Regions from separate parts of the Homo sapiens genome. Here region 2 is linked to region 1. Evidence: fine-mapped QTL for protein levels in blood plasma. Region 1 holds a variant in brackets. A gene starts in the other region. All regions are shown on their reverse strands. Region 1 overlaps ORM1 (orosomucoid 1). Region 2 holds the start of PDGFC (platelet derived growth factor C).

Evidence for each region. A credible set is the group of variants that fine-mapping cannot tell apart. PIP is the chance, under the fine-mapping model, that this variant and not a neighbour inherited with it causes the effect. Protein levels are from antibody-based Olink assays in UK Biobank. Linkage for the fine-mapping came from a reference panel and not from the study's own genotypes, which makes the PIPs less certain.
Region 2: it holds the start of PDGFC, and the variant in region 1 is the best candidate, but not a certain one, in a credible set for the plasma level of the PDGFC protein (UK Biobank, PIP 0.56).

The regions. Positions count from the first base shown.
Region 1 is chr9:114,324,502-114,329,668 of GRCh38, reverse strand. It overlaps ORM1 (orosomucoid 1), which reads right to left. Exons shown (of 6, transcript NM_000607.4): 4 at 4,772-4,879; 5 at 4,517-4,620; 6 at 3,190-3,377. The coding sequence ends at 3,312. Among named protein-coding and RNA genes, the nearest start is that of ORM2, 2.8 kb to the left of the region's middle. The variant T/G (reference allele first, on the strand shown) is at 450.
Region 2 is chr4:156,964,422-156,978,768 of GRCh38, reverse strand. It overlaps PDGFC (platelet derived growth factor C), which reads left to right and starts at 6,970. Exons shown (of 6, transcript NM_016205.3): 1 at 6,970-7,983. The coding sequence starts at 7,866. RefSeq lists an enhancer at 6,683-7,183.

The sequences.
Region 1 (5,167 bases):
AGCCCTAGAGTATGGCTGCCCAAGGCCAAGGTGGGTGCGGGGCTGCAGCAACATTAGTAAACGTGTGAGTCCACAGATTTCCTAGAGAGGCCTCCCGCAGAGGAATCTCATGTCTTCATTCAATTCCTATCCCTCTGAGTGCCAAGACTTACTTCAGTAGGACCCAGCCACAAACCTAATGATGAAGCACCTTTGAGGGTCCCCAGGCTGGCATGGGATGTATGTTGTGGCGGGGAGAGTTGGGGTGAAGGATGCCGGGTGAAGGCAAACATGGATTCAGTTCCACTGAGTGTGGCAACAGCTATGTCAGAGCCAAAGTTCATTGGGGCCCCAACCCAGCCCTGGACGCAGGCACATTTCCAAAAAGGGACATCCAAGTTGAATGTCTATTTCCAGTAAATATACTACTCGAAGCATCTCCCAACATCTCAAACAGGAAACTGTCTCCC[T/G]GTTTTTCCCCATTCCCTGCCATCTGAGCAGGCAGCTTGCTTCTCTTTCACCAATATGCCCCCAATCCTGGAGCAGTGCCCAGCACTTCAAGGGCACTCGGTGTATACTGTGGAATGAGTGATTCCGTGGCCCATTTGCGTTCCTACCTTATGGGTCAAGTCTTTATTTGTATGAATAAATACTTTCAGAAAGTATTCTTTTTTTTTTTTTTCTCGGAGATGGAGTTTCGCCATTTTGCTCTTGTTGCCCAGGCTGGAGTGCAATGGCTCGATCTTGGCTCACCACAACCTCCCCTGCTGGTTTCAAGCAATTCTCTTGCCTCAGCCTCCCGAGTCGCTGGGATTACAGGTATGTGCTACCACGCCTGGCTAATTTTGTATTTTTAGGAGAGATGGGGTTTCTCCACGTTGGTCAGGCTGGTCTCGAACTCCCTACCTCAGGTGATCCGCCCACCTCGGCCTCCCACAGTGCTGGGATTACAAGCATGAGCCACCGCGCCTGGCCTTCCAGAGCGCCTTTCAACAGTGAACAGCAGCTGCTGTTTAGGGAGCACCAGCTGGACCCTGATTCTTACGCTAAACACTGGGCATTGTCTACTTCACACAGTCCCTGTACTAGCTCTCAGGACCCTCACTCTGCCCCCTTTTTACTGATGAGGAGAGTGAGGTTCCACTGGGCCATCTGCCCAAACTGGTTTGGGAGAGAGCCTGGGTTTGGACTCACATTAGTTTGACTCCAAAGTCCACATTCTTTGTTATGTGTGTTTTTTGCTTCCTCTACCTCCATGATTCTTTTTCTCTTGACCTCTGGTTTCTTCCTCACGTGGCTTTTCCTTCCATGTTCCCCACTTCTCGTCTCCCTTGCTTCTCCCTGCCCTGCCCATCACGACTCATTTCTGTTTCATTTTTCAGCGGATCCTCCTCAGTATGGTTGAAAATGGTGTCTTACTGAAAGTAACATTGAAATGGGGAAACTTCTTTTAGGTTCTGAGCCTTCAGTTCCAGGCCACTGTGGGACCCCAGAGGCTGTCCTGTCCACTTGCCTTCTGAGGACATCAGCTCGGTGTCCCCAGCCTCCGTGCTGTGGGCACAGCAGTGGTTTGGGTGCTGAGCAAAGGATGCTGTAGTCTTGGCCCTGTGGAGCTTGGCTGTTGGGACAGGAGGTACAAAGGGGAGTGGTGCCTGAGGACACAGGACTGGACCCTGGGGTGTCAGAGCCTCAGGCTCATGGTCTTATCACCCTGTATGGTGTACGCAGCTGCACATACGGAATAGATGGAACAACTCAGGCCCAACTTTTCTGCCACGGGAGGAGTGCTGCTTCCCTCACGTAACAAGAGGCTGTCAATCATGAGCCCCCAGGTCTGGGTGAGGCCGGCCCTTCGTGGCTTGTGCCACTGAGTGGGCTGTGCCTCGGGCTTGGCTCCACCTCAGGGCTCCACATTTGCAAGATGTCAACTGATTTCCAGGGACCAGCCTCACCCTTACGTGTTGTCTCCTTCTTCTGGGTCTCCCAGGTGAGCACCCTGAGGACACGTCCATGGAGACACCCAGCCCCTCTGGCCTGGGCCCCAAGCCCTCTGCATCACCCCAGCCCTTCCCTGCCCTGCCCTGTCCTGGCCCAGGCAACCGCCTCTTGCCTAGTTGCCCACAGCAGCCTTCACTCAGGCCTTCCTGCCTCCAGCCTGGTCCCCACAACGTGCCTCCCCCGATGGCCATGGTAATACTGGAATAAGGTCCTTGTGATAGGCACCACATGCCTGAACTCTCCCCACCCCATCCACCTTGTATTTGTCTGTTCTCACATTGCTATAAAGAACTACCTGAGACTGGGTAGTTTATGAAAAAAAGAGGTTTAATTGACTCACAGTTCCGCAGGCTTCAGAGGAAGCATGGCTGGGAGGCCTCAGGAAACTTACAATCATGGTGGAAGGCAAAGAGGAAGCAAGTCCCTTCTTCACAAGACAGCAGGAGAGACAGAGCGAAGGGGGAGGTGCTACACACTTTTAAACAATGAGACCTTGTGAGAAACAGCACCTGGGAGGTGGGGCTAAACCATTAGAAACCAGCCCCGTGATACAATCACCTCCCAGCAGGACCCGCCTCCAACACATGGGGCTGAAAATTCCATGTGAGATTCGGGTGGGGACAGAGCCAAACAATATCACACCTCCACTCCTGTTTAGGGTCTTCTGCCTCAAGGTTACTCAAATGCATCCTCTCATTTCCTTGCTTGCAGCAGAAACAGAAAAGGATTTTTTTTTATGACTAGTTGAAGTTTTATTACAATCTTGCTATTAGGAGAAAGGCCTTACAGTAGTCTCAGTTTAGAAATTCACATTTGTTTGCTTGTATTGTTTTAAATGGACACATAATGTACATATTTATGGGGAACTGTGTGATAATGTTCCCAACACAAAGAAATGGTAAATGTTTGAGGTGGTGGAAATGACCCCGATTTGATCATCACACATTGTACACAGAACAGCAGGTTGTATTATGCTCCTCATCTTTCTAGATTGGTTCAGATGCCCCTTCTAGGAAGCCTTCCCAGATTTTCGCCCTGCAGAAGAAAATGTCTTCCCACAGTGCTGGGCTCCCACAGCACTCGGTGCCTGTCATCCTCCATCCTGGCACGTGTGGGGCTCTTCCCACCAGGGACAGCGTCTTATCCAGTGCCCAGCCAGGGTTGAACTCAGGGCAGGCTTCAGAATGAATGAATGAACAAATGACTAACAGCTTAGCTGTTCCAAACACAGAAGCTTTATTGATGCAAGTGAGGGAAAAAGCTGAGGTACACATGTCGGGTTGGAGGGGCAGGATGGCCCCCAAGTCTCTGTCCTGATCCAAGGCTGTGTCCTGCTAGGATTCCCCCTCCTCCTGTTTCCTCTCCTTCTCGTGCTGCTTCTCCAGTGGCTCACACTTATCCTAGAAGGCAGCGGGGAATTGGGGTGAGGGAGAAGCAGAGGCATGGGGACAGGGTGGGAGGTCTTCCAGGGAGAGGGCAGAATGAGCTCTGGCCTGTGGAACCAGCTCAACCAGGGCTCCAACCCTGGCACTGTCACTTCCCAGCTGGGTGATCTTGGGCAAGTCATTTTCTGTCTCTGAACCTCAGCTTACTTGCCTCTACAATGGGAGCTCAGACTCTTAAGAATCACTGGCATTTACTGTGCACTTAGGACCTGCCGAGCCCTTATGCTGCAGCTCCTGAATTCCTCACAACCACCACTACTATGCAGATGATGTAACTGAGGAGCAGGGTGGCCTTGGGACCCATTCGAGGCTCCCTAGCCAGACAGTGGGGGTGCCAGGCTGTGGATCAGGTGAGCTGACTACAGTGGTTGTGTTCATAAGCCCTGTCCCAGGATCCTGGGACTGCAGATGGGGGCAGGAGGTAGTTCACACCACTGGTGGTCATCTCAGATGGCAAATGGAAGGAATTGTTTTTCTTTGAATAGTCATGGAAGTACTGCATGTATATATTTTAAAAATTGGAACCAGCTCATCGGTGCTGTGATTTCACAGGTATTGGGCACAGGGCCACACCAACGCAAGTCTTCCAAACACAGGTTTAAAGAAAAGTGTTAAGGAGCTCATTATAAAGTAATTTTCATTTGTAGCAAAAATCGGGATGGTGACTGTGGCCGTGCTGCAGTGTGGGTGACATTGAAAACCACAGTATCAATTCCCCACTGCACGGGTATTAAAAATGAGTGGGGAGTGGAGGTGGGGTGAAAGCCTGGGGTTTGGGACGCGTCTGTAGGTGGTAACTCCCCGCATTACGTCCCCTCCAATTGCCAATCCCCCAACCCCGTGGCTCACGCTGTTCCCTCCTGTTAGCTTTCAGGTCCTCCCTGGTTTCACAGGGACTTCTCCCTCCTGGGCTCTCATCCACCACCCCTGGGCCTCTGTAGAGCTCAGCTGTCCCTACAGTGAGGCAGGTGCCTAAAAGCAGAAGATCTGCCTAGCTGTGCAGCCTTGCCTGGCAGCTCTCCTGCTCTGGGCCTCTGGGGCTGCCCAAGTTGGGCCATGGACAAGGTGGGCACTGTCCAATCCCTTGCGTTTACCTTTTTCCAATCGGTGTACACGACATCTGACTTGGGAATGCGCAAGCAGTCGAGAGCTTCGTAGAACTCTCCCAGTTGCTCCTTGGTCGTCTCTGGCTTGTCAGCTGCAGGGGGAGCAAGGAGACTGACTGGGGACATGGTGGGGCCCGGCGGGAGGCCAGGGAGGGCTGGGGTTCTAGGGGCCAGCCCAGGGGTGGGTGAATGGGGGGTGAGGCCTGAGAGGGGCATGAGTTTGGGGCTGCTAAGCATGCCTACCATAGACAGACAGCCCCCAGTTCTTCTCATCGTTCACGTCAAAAGCAAGCATGTAGGTCTTGGTGTCCCTGAGGATCAGCAAGTGAGCGAAATGCTCTTGGCCTCCCACTGGAAGAGAAAAGGAGCCTCTGGGTGAGAACATGGGATGGCACAATGGTGTCTGTCTTACAGGTGAGGAGGCCTAGGTGTGTCAGTGGCCACACAGCCCATCAGTGAAGGCCCAGGGCTCCTTTGGGCCACCGTGTGCCCAGCCCCTGCTGCATGCCCAGCTCCACGCCAAGCACTTTCTGTACATGAGATCTCAGGAGCCTCACACAGACCGTGGCTGTCAGGGCCTTTCTCCGTTTTACAGATGAGGAAAATGAGGCCCAGAGAGGAGGCTCGGGATGCTAAATG
Region 2 (14,347 bases), not on the chromosome of region 1:
GGCTTCTATACTTATGAACTGTGTGACCTTGGGTAAGCCCAAAAACCTCTCTGTGGCTCAGTTTTTCATGTTAAAAATGGGAAATTCTATTAATATCTACTCAGAGTTTTTGTAGTTAATTTATCAATTGTTTAATATGCAGTACAGGATTCCCTTTCTAGAGTAGTTCATTGTGAACATTTCAGTAAAAGGAGTTAAAAATGTGATGGATCTATAAGATATTAAATGAAAGTAGGCAGGCTACTGTATTCCCAGACCAGGCAATAGTTAATTTGTATACCAGACTAAATAGATTCTGAAAAATGAGAAATTTCTTCCCGTTAGCAAGTTAGGCATGCTGGATGTGGGTGTATACAGTGATAATAATCTTCTGATGGAAATCCAGATAGACAGAAAGAAAGAATATTACGAAGTGCATTGACTTCCTAAAGTACTGTTTTTACTGACGCATAGTACATAATAATTTACCTCAATAAAAATAAATAATAGGAGCTATGGCAATTAGCTGTGTCCACATTTTTCTATTTAGTTTTACGTGTGTTTTAAAAGCCATTTATGAAGGAAATAAATGTAAAGAATTTTTTCCACTTGCTGTCCAGTGGGACAAAAATGGCACCATAGGGTCTTTTCATATGGTATACCCCTTCAAATACAAATGGAATGTATCTATGGAATTAGAATTTCAATTGAAGACTTTTGCTTGCCTGAGGGCTTAACAAGTCACTAGTCCCTTCATGCAGCAGTCTTTGTGCTTTGAATAACTCCAACTAATCTAAAATACCTTTGTAAAATTATCAATAGGGATGCAAATTTGCCTCACCATGCCACTTAAAAAACTCTTGGACTAAGTATTTTAAATTAGAAACATGTGGAAGGATGTCTATAGGAATTACATATATAAGAAAGGTCTAGATTCTGACATCTATAGCTAATCACAAATTGATTCTTCAAAGGGAGTAACTGGGAAAACAGCATATTTCTTCCTAGCCATGATGCTTCAATTCAGTAGCAATCATGAGTAGAAAAAGAGGAATGATAATTCACTCCCTTTGTCCTCAAAGACAAGGAGATAGATTCTTTGAAATAACTGCCCACAGATGGTCTAGGCTTAGACATTGGCCGGATGACTAACGTTGGCCAGGATAAACAGGATACTCCCGCTAGCCCACGCCTTGGGTGGGCTTCAACCCCAAGGCTAGCTGCCCGAGGCCTTAGTCACTATCACTGCCTCGGGTAACCCATATTCATTTTGACTCAAACATTTTATTTAGGCTGTCCAGTCAGATAGCTGTGTAATGTTGTAGTAGTATTCTTGAACACCTCAGGTTAAACATAGGGGAAGACATTCAGTCATTGTGAAGAAAACTTAGAAGAGAAATGTAAGAAAGCTTCAGGTAAGATGTTTTTGTCCAAAGTCCAGGGCTTAAAGGTGTCAAATTGAAAAGGAGTAAAAGGAGAAGACCTGGAGTTAAATATTAACTCTACCTGTCATTAATATTGTCACTCTGGGAAAATTAATGCCATCTTTAAGGTTCAGTTTCTCTGCCGTAAAATGGGAAACCTATGACCTTCCTTAAAGGAGAAGCTGGAAGATTAAATGAGAAAATATTAATATATTTTAATGAATCTACAGTTCCTGGGACATAGTAGGTGCTTTTAAAGATAAATTTAAGCAAAAGTAATTCTCCCCTCACTTTAATTTTCCTTGGTTTGCCTTGGTATAACTATAAATCTTTTTGAGTAGCCTGCAAGAGGAAAACATGGCTTTTTGTCCTCCTAATTTCTTGTAGGACAATTCAAAGAAGATTTAGATGATGAGAAAGAAGAGAAGGTGGTACAGAGGATGAGGGAAACACAAAGGGAAATTGTGCTGATAAAAACAAAATTTGGGAAAAGAAAATGATCCCTTAAGAGTGTTGCAAGTCTGCTTTAAAAGAAAACAAGCAGATTTATTACTGCAAAGATGATAAGGAAAGCAAATAGTAATAATCATAATAGAAAGGGGGGTCTGTTGATCTATCTTGAACTTCAAAAGCAGTTGAGGATACTTTTAATATTAGATTAGTTAAGCCATATTTTCCTTTCTTCTAGCCAGCCAGCAATACTTTTTGATGTTCACTGTTAAGTAGTGGGCTGAGACTATCCACCTCTTTTACAAAGGCTAGTAGCCAAGGAAAGGACTGCATTTGAAACAATGATCACAAAGTGAAAGGCTCCTTCTCCCATGACCTTTGAAATAAGAAGGTCACTATCTGAGAAAGGAGGGTCTGTAGCTGTGTCTTGACCTCTTTACTATGATTTGTCACAATGGGGACAACAGCCTTCATATCCTACAAATGATTTCAAGAGAGAGAAAAATGACACCTTATTGACTCTAAGATATGGACAAAGATAGTGTTGCTGTCCATGTTCTTAGGGGATACCCCTTGCTCTCCAGATTGTTTCACATTCCACCAGTGTGACTCAATAGAACAGTATGAGTTTGACCATCTGTTCTTGGCTAACAACAATATTATTTCCTTAGTGTTTACAACTCAGTTATGTACAATAGCTATTTCTTTTTACCTTGACACTCCGCTTAGGACTGCACTTTGCCTCTTTCGAGGCTGTTAGCATGATAACAACCAAATATTGAAAAGTAAAATATGAATACCTGCACCTATTGAAGGCCTGGGGATTTATTTGGTTTCCTTGAATTCCATGATATTCCTGTATACTTGCCCTAGCCAGTGATTTCCAAACTCTGTCCCCTCTTCTTTTTGATTACCATTAGAGCTTGGTTTTTCAAACTATGGCAATAACAGATACAATAGTACTGCTCTAGTTGAGCAAGTTTAGAAAGAAGAACCTGTTCATTATCTCTTTTGCCAGCCACGAAGACATCTCTGATATGAGGCTAGGAAACTTGTGCTAGTAATTTTTTATCACAGAAGCACACTGAAGATGAAAAAGTCTTGCCATCATTATCTATAATAGCTCAGAGAATTTCTAAAGCAGTAGGGGGATCAAGACAGAAGCCAGTGGCGATTCCTCATGTAAGGAAAAGGAAACTGAGGGGCAGAGAAGATTTCTAGATCAAGGTTGTACTGTTTATTAGTGGTAAAGCCAGACTAAGCCCCTGACCTCCCATCTCCCAGTGAAATGATCTTTTGTTGTGGTGGTTCAAAGGTTACTAGGGCTTCTCTTTCTTTACGGCTGTTTCTGGCTAGTTACTCCCTCTGAGTTCAGAGTCAGACAAACACTTCTAAGATTTTGGAAAATCTTAGATTTCAATAAGGAAATAGCAGCTTTACTTCAAAGGAAAAGGCCACAGAGAGCCAACTAAAGTCCATTTCTGCAGGTCACACTTCTCTTAACTCCCCATCCTCCAGATCCATTCCCCAGGAAAGTCAGACTGACAAAGTGTGTCTTCTTCTAGAGCAGAGCCTTAGCAAAACCCTCTACCCTCAGCCTCAGCAGGTAAACCCTTCTCAGATTAGCAGCTGATACACTGGGGAGGTAAAAGTTACCTGATGCTAGAAGAATAAAATGTAATGAAAAGTGTCTCATTTCTTGGTTGGAAAAACAGAGTATTGATATATATCTTCATAACCTAGAGATAGCAAGGTCGTATTTCTCAAGATGAGGTAGTGGGAAAAGTGGAAAGAGAAGAGGATGACTCTAAGACAGACTACTGACTTCATTTATTTATTTATTTCTTTTTTTCCTAACACAGTCTTTATTCCTGCTGTGGTCTGTGGACGTTTACTTTGACTACTAATGATATCTCCAGTCCTGCCATATATATATATATATATATATATATATATATATATATATATATATATATATATATTTGTTACTTGTCAGCCATTCTCAATACACAATGAGTATTTAGGTAGAAGAAAGCTTTCTGAACTTCAGGAAATCATGCTCAATTATCTGCCACTAAAATACTGAAATGTTCCAGGAAAAGTCTTAAAATAACTTTGCACATATGCCTCTGTGTGTGTGTGCATGCACGTGTGTGTGTGTGTTAGGATCAAAACAGAAAAATAAAGAGCAAGAAAACGTAGATTTTTTTTTTTGGTGGCAAAAATATGTCCCCATGGTTCCCGCCCCTTTGAGTGTTAAGTGGCTAGCTAAAGGAGTAGGTTGCTTTAAAATCTTATTTCACTTAAAAACATTTAGTAGTGACACCCCCTCCCCCAAATTATCATTGTTAACCACCAAGTGTATTCTTTAGTAAGAATTTGTGGTAATACTCTTCATGCATGCAGCAGCAATGGGCACTCCTTCTTAAGGTTTAAGAAAACATGAAAACCACAAAGAATGTCTGAAATTATTTTCTCTTGGTTGGCGGAACAGATGCCTTTCATCAAGGAAAATGCCTTTGGCCAAAACAAAGCCATATTCATTTAAAATATATTGTTTAGTAATTGCACAGACTCTGGATTATATAAAATTTACTTTCAATGCAAAGATTTCATTTTTCTAGAAAAGGTTAACAAGCAAAATAGAGCAGGAAGACAGGCAGAGGATAATGTGTTAAAAGAATCAACTACGTCAAGGGCAAGAGCAGTTCAAGAAATGACAATGCAAGTACATTGAAAGGAAATTGGCCAATGTGGATGTGATTTTGTCTAGGGGTCATTCAGGAACACCTGGCTGACTTTATTTATAAGGCGATTGTCAAATCAATCTGTAGAATATGGATGAGGTGAAACGCAGAGGTAGAGTATTATTCTAGATCATCTGTAACTTTTCAAATACAACTATCGCACTGAAATTCCAGGGAGAATGTAAGTGACTCCAATAAAGAAACCTGTCAGTCAGTCAAGAGTGTTTATTTATTATCCCCCTGTGCCAAGCAATATTCTAGCCAATATGAAATGATACAAAATAAAGAGTAGTCATCACCCTTCCAATCTCCTGAGAGCAAATGGATTACATTTGCAGACACACACACACACACACACACACACACACACACACACACCCCACCTCTATGTGGGTGGTCAGGAAACTCAACTATATGGACATATAACAATTTCATTTAGAAAAGTGCTGATTAGAAAACTAAACTTACAAAATTAGAAAAACTGGAGAATAATGAATTTTATGAAAAATAGATTACAATGGATTCATAAGGCATGCCCTTTATTTAAGTCCCATTATGTTATTAAAATTGGGAATAACCCTTCACCCTCACAAATTTACAAAATATTTTTGGAACACATTATGCAAATATGGAGTCACACTGGTGTTGTGGAGCTGCTAACTCGAATAAAATACCATACTTGATAAAAAACCTTCTGTCCACTAAACTGTAAATGCCTTAAAGTCAAAGATCAGGCCTTATTTGCCTTTAGTGTATATTTAGTACTCTGTAGATAGAAGTGGTAAAGGGATAAGAATGAATGAATGAGACAGGCGGGTGAAATTTTCAAGAATGAGACAGATGGGTGAAGTTTTCAAAGGTTTCTAAAAGGGAAAAACAAGAAGACTAGGATATTCCAAGCAGAAAGGTCTGGTTGGTTGGCCCCAGTTGGTGTTCGCATATAAGAAGAGGGCTTGGCATTTTCCTCACCACTGAAGAAGGATCAGCCCCTGGTTTGGTCCAGTAAGAATATGTTCTTGCCCAAATGCCACTCCTTAGTTTCAGGGACATTGCTATTTTGGTTTTCTGTTCCAGCCCAAGTGTTCTTGATGGTCGAATTGTTTGCATTGACTTTTTTTCCACAAGAAGTTGGGTGATATTGCTGATTTGCCTGCCATGGCACTTCCTTGTTTTCATTTTGATTATTACTCAAAAATAGCTTCATTTTAAAATTCAACTTTTCTGACTCTCTGCTTGTGCCTTTAACACATTGACAATGATTTTCTGCTTCTCCACAAAGAAAGCACGTTGGATCCTGTCACAGACATATTTAGCAGACATGGAACCACCATAAGCCCTGCTTGGCATGTGTGTTTCATTTCAGACTACCTCATGAGAACTTTAGGTCTTAAAGCATCGGCCTCTCTCTCCAAGTCAGCCTGAACACAAGCCACAAGAGATTTCAGTTCTTTCTCGACCTTTTTGGTGTAAATGTAAACAATTCTATCACCAGGGGTTCAGGGCAGCCTAGTTTTGTTAGAGGCTGTATTGTAGGAAAGTCCAAGGTTGCAGGATCATTCTGAGTCCCTTAGACACCATTCTCAGAAGAGCTTGCTATTAGCTTAATGCTGCCCAACTACTACGTATGCTTCACGAGGGCAGGGACTTTTGTCTGTTTTCACTGCTACGGCTCCAACCTCTAAACAGTGCCCGACATAGTAGGCATTCAGTAAATATAGTACTTGTTAAATGGATGTTATTTTGGCTGCCTTTACTTTTGCTTTATTTGTCCTGCTTTACGGAGCTGGAAATTGGAGGAAAGCCTTTGAATTCATTTCCCTTCTTCCTTCTGTTCTGAAACTCTGGCCAAGGGTCCTAGCAAAGACCTTAGGGAGTGGGGAGCCCTCCTGGAAACTAATGACAAGTCAGGCGACAGGGGGCGGGAGAAGGAGAGCTGCAGGAAGTTCTTTCCCACTTACTTCTGCAGCACCCTTCACCACCCATCGTGCTCTGTATTTGGGGTTAGAGGTGTTCCGTGGAAGGGAAAGCAGGGGCCGCCTTGGCCGCGTTCCTCTCCTGGGCCACCGGGGTCTTGCCCACAGCGAGTCCCGCAGCACCCCCTGTCTGCGCAGCACCTGTTGACAGCCAGTGGGCGGCCAAGCCCGCTCGCGCGGACGCGTCCCAGGGCTGCCCCTCCCAGAGGCGCTGACCCCCGCCCGCCCCATCGGCCGCCTGCGGGAGAGCCGCTGAGCCGCCCCCGCTCGCCAGGCGCGCGCTCCGCCCGGGCTCGGCCCACGGCCCCCACCTCCTGTCTGCCGCCCGGCGGGGGGAAGGTAGAGAAGGGGAGGGGACAAGCCGGATCCTCCCGGCCGCCCCGGCCTTCCCTCTTCACCCCGTGCGGAGACGCCGCGCGTAGCCCCGAGGTTAGCGCGGAGCCCGAGGCGTGGGGGGAGGGGACGGGGAACAACCGGAGCCCCGCGGTGACCCCGAGCGGCCGAATTGCCCCAGGCTTTGAGGAGCGGGGGACGAGCCCGAACAAGGTGAACTTTGGTCGCGGAAAACTCAAGCCAGGTGCCGGAATCCGTGCTGCGGCGCTCCGAACCCGGGGCCAACTGCGCTCCGGGCTGAGGAGCGGGAGCCCCGCGGCCTCTCTCCGCCTGCGCCCGGGCCGCCGTCGGCCCGGAGCCCCCCGGCCCCGCTCCGGCGCCCCGGCCCGTGGGACCCGCCGCGGCGCCCTCGCCTTGTTTCTTCCCCCTCCCCCTTCGGGGGTGGGGGGTGGGGCGGGGGAGAGGGGCGCCCGGAGAGCCGCATCTATTGGCAGCTTTGTTATTGATCAGAAACTGCTCGCCGCCGACTTGGCTTCCAGTCTGGCTGCGGGCAACCCTTGAGTTTTCGCCTCTGTCCTGTCCCCCGAACTGACAGGTGCTCCCAGCAACTTGCTGGGGACTTCTCGCCGCTCCCCCGCGTCCCCACCCCCTCATTCCTCCCTCGCCTTCACCCCCACCCCCACCACTTCGCCACAGCTCAGGATTTGTTTAAACCTTGGGAAACTGGTTCAGGTCCAGGTTTTGCTTTGATCCTTTTCAAAAACTGGAGACACAGAAGAGGGCTCTAGGAAAAAGTTTTGGATGGGATTATGTGGAAACTACCCTGCGATTCTCTGCTGCCAGAGCAGGCTCGGCGCTTCCACCCCAGTGCAGCCTTCCCCTGGCGGTGGTGAAAGAGACTCGGGAGTCGCTGCTTCCAAAGTGCCCGCCGTGAGTGAGCTCTCACCCCAGTCAGCCAAATGAGCCTCTTCGGGCTTCTCCTGCTGACATCTGCCCTGGCCGGCCAGAGACAGGGGACTCAGGCGGAATCCAACCTGAGTAGTAAATTCCAGTTTTCCAGCAACAAGGAACAGAACGGTGAGTCTTTCCCCCATTCTCCCCCTGCTTGTTTCTCGCTGTGTGTGTTAACGTTGGCATTGTGCGTTGGTATGTGATATATACCAGACTGTGAAGGTATCTTTGGTCTCTCATTACATGCAAATGTGCGCTGCGTTCATTGGCATGGACTGTTAAAGGTTAAGTGTAGTTTGCAACTTCGGGAGCTGCCACAAAGCTCCAAGAGGGCAACGTGAGTGCCACTGCTGAGTGAGGACATTCTGGGAGCGATTGTGAACGTCATTTCAAATGCACATTGCAGGTTCGCTCATTGCTAAAGTTAGAAGTTCAAGAACTGCCTCTAAAAACGAATCCAAAATGAATGAGCCTTGGCATGTTTGACTTTACTCAGATTTGGGGAGGGCGAGGGGGGTCGGTCAGGAAATATATCAGCCGCATTAATTGAAGCACTCTAGGTCGAAGTCATCAATTAATCAATGAGTAGATAGGAAATATAGAGGTCAAGAGGCTGTGTGGTCGTTTTTAGAGGAATTAAAAAGTGTATTTCTCTTGCTCCCTAGTTTTTGTTTTTTAAACTTGCCTTTGTACTCTGAAGTCCTTACCTTTCTGGTGGTGTGTTTTTGTATGTGTTGGTGAATGACTGCTATTTTGTGTGTGCTGGAAACGACTTAATCCTGCATAGGAAATGAGAATTACTTTCAGCTTTCAAGTGTACCTGAAATGTTTAGAAAACTCTCAGATGCAAGTTCCCTTGGGCTGGGATTGCACAGAGCTGGAGAAAGGCTCCTTTCATAAAGCCAGGGCAGCTTCAGGGTGTGTAATTTGCTTAGCCTCTGAACCCATATGATTTACATCATTCAATTTCTAAACTCTTTTTCTCTTCATCTACCATTATGAAGTCATTTTTGAGAATACTTTGTAAATAGAAATTTTATACTGCACATGAAACCACAATGTTCATGTTAGGCTGTCTAAAATTGGAATATTTAACGCCCTGTTTACAAATGGTGGCTCTTACTGTAATTTGAAAAGGAATATACATGTTTTTACTGCTTTGTATATCATCTATTCAGAATGCAAGGATTCTGTCACTTGATTAACCATGCAAAATGAACACAAGTGGCATACCTACAAAATTAAGATAGGATGTGCTATAGTTTTAAGTCAGAGTGATTTTTTTTCCTTTTCATATTGGGGTGTTTCAAGACTTCAACTTTGAATTTAAACTCTATGAAGTGTTCATGTTTAAGAAAGCACAGAAAGTTTTAGGGTATAAAAGTAGATAAAATAAGGATTCTGCCGACTTTTGCAAACGTTATTTGTATTTGCTGTTGCGCAGCAAGACATAGTATCACATTTATCAGCTAATATTAGTGTGGTGCTTCTTACAACTTGCTAATGTGATGCCACATGGCACCTGCAGGCTCCTTGAGCTGCTGATCAAAGGGCAGCCTAGGGATGTATCTCTAATCACAGTAGCTGCAGAGGTCTGGGGGAAAGTGATCAAAGGAGCCACAGCACCAGCTGTACCCGTGCAGGAAACACATCAGACCAACCTTTGTTCTTTCTCATGTAAAATAAATGTCCAGTTCAAAATATTGCTTCTTACTAGCCAAGCTCCTCCATAATGACAACAATGCACAATATTCCTGGCTTCCTGGCTTCTGTTTTTTATTGTTCCTGTCCCATATCATTTCTCCTATTGCCTTGTCTTATCAAGCCTCTCTTGGCATCTGCCCGAATCTCTTTGCTGACCTGTGCTTCTCTTTGTCCTTTCCTTTTAGTTCTCTCTTGTGATCCCCATGCTATCATCACTTTGTAAGGGTCCCAGAGCTGTCATGCAGCATGTGGTCATAGGCCACTTTACCCAAGTAGATTCACACCTCCAGGAGAGATGAGTTCATTAAGCCAGGCCACACACATTCTGTTGCCATCTGAGGCTGGGCCATTTCCATTCCTAAGATGCATGATGCTAAAAATTGCTGCTTGTTTCCTAATCTGTGGGTAGAGGATTAGGCTATGTTTGGGGGTTGGTCTATGTTAAGGATGGCAGCAGGAAGTAACTAGAAGTAGAGGAACTACTTGTAGTTTTTAGCCCAAGGAGAAGTGGCACTGGCCAGCACTAGGGGGCAATATAGAGCTATTTTCTTGCACATGCTCAGGTTGATTTTTATACGTAAATGTTTCAAGATTTGAGGGTAACAGGTGGGTGCTGAAGAAGATTCCCCTGGAATGTAACCAGATTTGTTAGAGCTACTACCATTACCGTTACTACTACTACTTCTACTTCTTCTTCTTTTTGTCTTTCAAATTTTCCATTATGTGGGTAATCTTTTGCCCACATACTGAATTATGATTGAATTTTGATTGCCCTGTTGCTGTCTCAATTTTGACAGTTGTACAGTCCTGTAAATACGAACCCTCCTTGAGGATACCACGTAGAAGATCCCATTGGCCCAGTTTGTGCATTGCATCGTTTTGTGACAGGTCTTCTCTAACTCTGAAATGTCCAAATTGATATATTATGACTGTAGCAGCTCATTCTTGTCTCCAAGGACCCCTCCTCATGATACTCTCTTTTCTTGAGTATTCTAAAGTCCCTAATGGTGATTACTCAATCAGGTACCTCGGGCTGCTCAGTTTTAATATTAACTTGGTATTTCAAGAGGAGGTAGAATTGGAAATTGATTGCTGTAGCCAATGCTGCATACATGGATTTAGACTGGATCATGTGGACATGGTTCAGAATTAGCTTTGAAGGGTTAGTGTCATTTACACTATTGTTAGGTATCTGGTTTTTGACCTACCATTGGATTGCAATTCTTGCCACTTTTACTGTACAAAGTTTTATCCTCTAATATTATAAGTTGACTTCATATACTATACTTAATTTTTAACCTTACTTCTGACCCTGTCTCACTTATGAAAACAAGAGTCTTCAGATTTAACTTGAGGAAAGAGATTAAAAGATAACATTGACTTGCTTGGAGGGTGTCTGGCCTGTATACTTGTTGTATGACCATGGTGAAAAATACTCATATTTTGTGCACACTGGTTTTAGATGAGAATGCCTATTGTGGAATGATTAAGTTCTGGGACGGTGCTTCTGAGTTGTAGCAGAAAGAATCATACACCCAGGAACAAAACAAAACCTACTTTGTCTGTTGCATACAGCACAAAGAGATGTCAATGACAAAGTTGTTGGTGGAGGAATGCCTCTTCTACCTGTGTTGTTGGTGAGTGATTTTTAGTTTACTCATAGATTAAGAGCATGCGTATCATTTTTTTCTCATTTTCTTTAGCCATTCTGAATTTTGATTTGGAATATGCCGCTCTTCGCTACGGTTGGTCTTATTAACATCAGTTATTGTATGTGTTCTTTTTCTCAAGGGCTTTTGTGGCATGTGGGGCAATTTACTTTGGTCTGCTGGTCGTGCCCTTTTGCCGGTATCTTGTGTTTATGGATTTTCCATCTCTTTTTATCAGTGCCAGCTTTCTCTTCCTACTGTCAATGCTCCTGTATCTAACAAAATTTAAATTAAAAATGGAAAATTAAAAAAGGTGCCCAGTCCCCTCGCCATCATTTTTAGGTGGCAGCTTCAAATCTCTGTTTTATCAAAAACAGATAACCACAATATTTAGAACAGTGTCCAAGAGTAAATAGGCTCTAACTGCAGACTAAAGGGACTTTCCTGTAAGTTTCCCTGTAAGTTTTATTGCGTGACCTTTTTGACATTTATTTTTGTTGTTTAAAGGCTTTTTTACAAAAAAAAAAAAAAAGAAAAAACTTCCTCCTGGTTCTCTGCTGTTTGAAATAGTTGAGGAAGTTGAACAAGTACAGTGCCATTATGTAATGATGAATTTTGTCTTTTCACAGTAGGTGATTAAAAAGCTCTATTATGTGGTAATTTTTCTTCCATATCAATTTTAATCATAGATATTGGATGGATGATATACTTTGCTTTTACCACTGAAAGGTGTTTAGAAAGTACAGAGGTTTGTAGGAAGCCTCAGGGACTAATATATCGTTTGTTAAATAGTTGTAAATAGAGGATGGGATTGGACATTAAACTTCCCTCAGTGCTGCCATCTCTTCTACGACCTCTAGTTCTGTCTCAGGCACGGAAGCCTTAGCTTTGTCTACTTGTATTTCACCCTTCCTGAAACTTATTTCTTAAATATCTTCTGTATATTAGCTTCCACTTCATGTTTTTTTCAAGCTTTAGACTGATAAGGTTCTAAGTTTTATCTATAAACTTTTGCACCCTTTGTGGAAACAAAATTCTAATGATAAAGTGATATGTTGAATAAGTAATAACAAATTAAGACATTCATAAATTTCATAGTAAAAAAAAAAAGTTTCCAAGACTGATGATATTTTCCCCGTAGGTTTCTGTTTGTATCAACCAAAATGGTAGAAGTCATAAAGTCCCTTCATTTACTTACTCTGATTTTCATGTTTCTAATTTGGAAGCATTATACGTAATCAGAATATATAACTCTGTGTAACTCTATGTAATCTCTATATAACTCATTTATTAAGCAATCTCTGTTGCTTCTTGATCTTTTGGGTAAGATCAGTTGTAAACAATCTGTATGTTGTATTATTTTTCACCACCACTGCCTCCAACTATGATTTTATTTTTCAAATCTCCCATTTTTTAAATCTCCTAAGGAGACATCTAATATTTGATAATCATTTAGTATGCACCAGTGTTAGTTCCATACTGATTACCAAAATGTTGAAATGTTGAAATATTTCCAATGAGTTGGGAAGAGACTAGTGCAACTCCTCTAAGACAAATGGACCAACACGTGATGAAGCAGAAATTCCAATGCCTGGTACTGCTTAAGGCCTCTGAGATACTTCTGCAACCCTGCTGGCCTCTGTCCTGATCGATCAGTGTTCCTGCCGTACTGATTGTTAAGCATTTTGACACTTTTAGCTGTGGACAATTTTAGTTCATATTGGGGTTAAAATTTCTATCTTTTTTCCTCTCTGCTTGGCAGCTCAGGCCTGACCCATGACTTGAAGGACCTGGAGTAAGAAGGGGTATGGCTTCTTTCAAGCTCCCTTCCTGCAGCTCTTTTGGCTTTAGCTCCTCAAGGGTTATGGCTGGGGGAGTGATGAGATGGTGGACATGGCACACTCAGCATACAATTGCAACTTCCAGTCATTTGCCCCTGCCTCTCTGGCTAACACTAACCAGCTGCTCTTGCATGGATAACACCTTCCCTTCATCTAGATTAAATGATTCACTTCCTCAGAGAGGTCTTTTTTCTGACCACTAAGTCTAAATTAACCACCCCTCACTGTCTTGTCAAGGTTAATTAATTAATTATGTAGTACTTAATACTCCTTGATATTCTTGTTTATTAATTAATTAATTTATTATCTACCAACATCCCTCACCCCCACCATAAAATCTAAGTTGTTGAGAGCGTGGACCTTGTTTGAATCGCTTCCTGTAGGAACTCCAGCACCTGAGACAGGTATGGCAGAGTGTGCCCGATGAGTATCTGTTGAAAGGTTCTGGAGGTAGTTAGTATCTTATTAAAGAAAGACTATGCTGTTAACTCTAACAACAGGCCATCTTTTAAGATATCTTTTTGGTCTTGGAGCTTGCACACTACTTGACTTCTTAAATAGGAAGATAGCTTGTTCATGTATTGGTAGTGATGGTTGTGCCAATCAGAGTACCACGTTTTACTCTTGATAAAGATTATGTTACCAAGTGAGCAGGTACCAGGCAAATGGATAGGTTTCCTAGAACTGGTTACTCTTTTAAGTGTCATTGCTGTGCATAGCCTTACATTTTCTGAAGATGGGGACTGTCATGTGATGCAGACCAAGGACTCTTGAAAATGTTGCATAGATGACAAGCCTCCAAAATCTGTGTACTTTCTATATTTTACCTGTGGCTCAAGGATAACTTGCACAGGCTAGAACTCAGCAACATGTGTGGTATGAGGAATGTTAGAGTTGGAAAGACCCCAGGAACTTATCCTCACTGATGTGCAGATTGAGGCCTAGAGAGCAGAAGTTGACTTGACTTTGTCAAGGCCACTAGACAGCCACTATTAAACTGCTAATGTGGTGATACATTTTTCCTTATGTGAGAACCAATTAGGAAAATGGAATCCTGGTTTCAAAATTCACATACTTTTTATAAAAGCATTTCTTTATTATGTTAGTGGATTGCATGGTTTTCAGATTGGGAGATGAGGTAAGAATCTGTTGCTTCGGAAATATTTACGGGAACAGTAAGGGAAACAATCTCATAATAATCACATTAGTCAAATGGAATGGTATATATATATCACTATATATATACTGTATATATATGTACTATATATACAGTATATATAGTATCACTATATATAT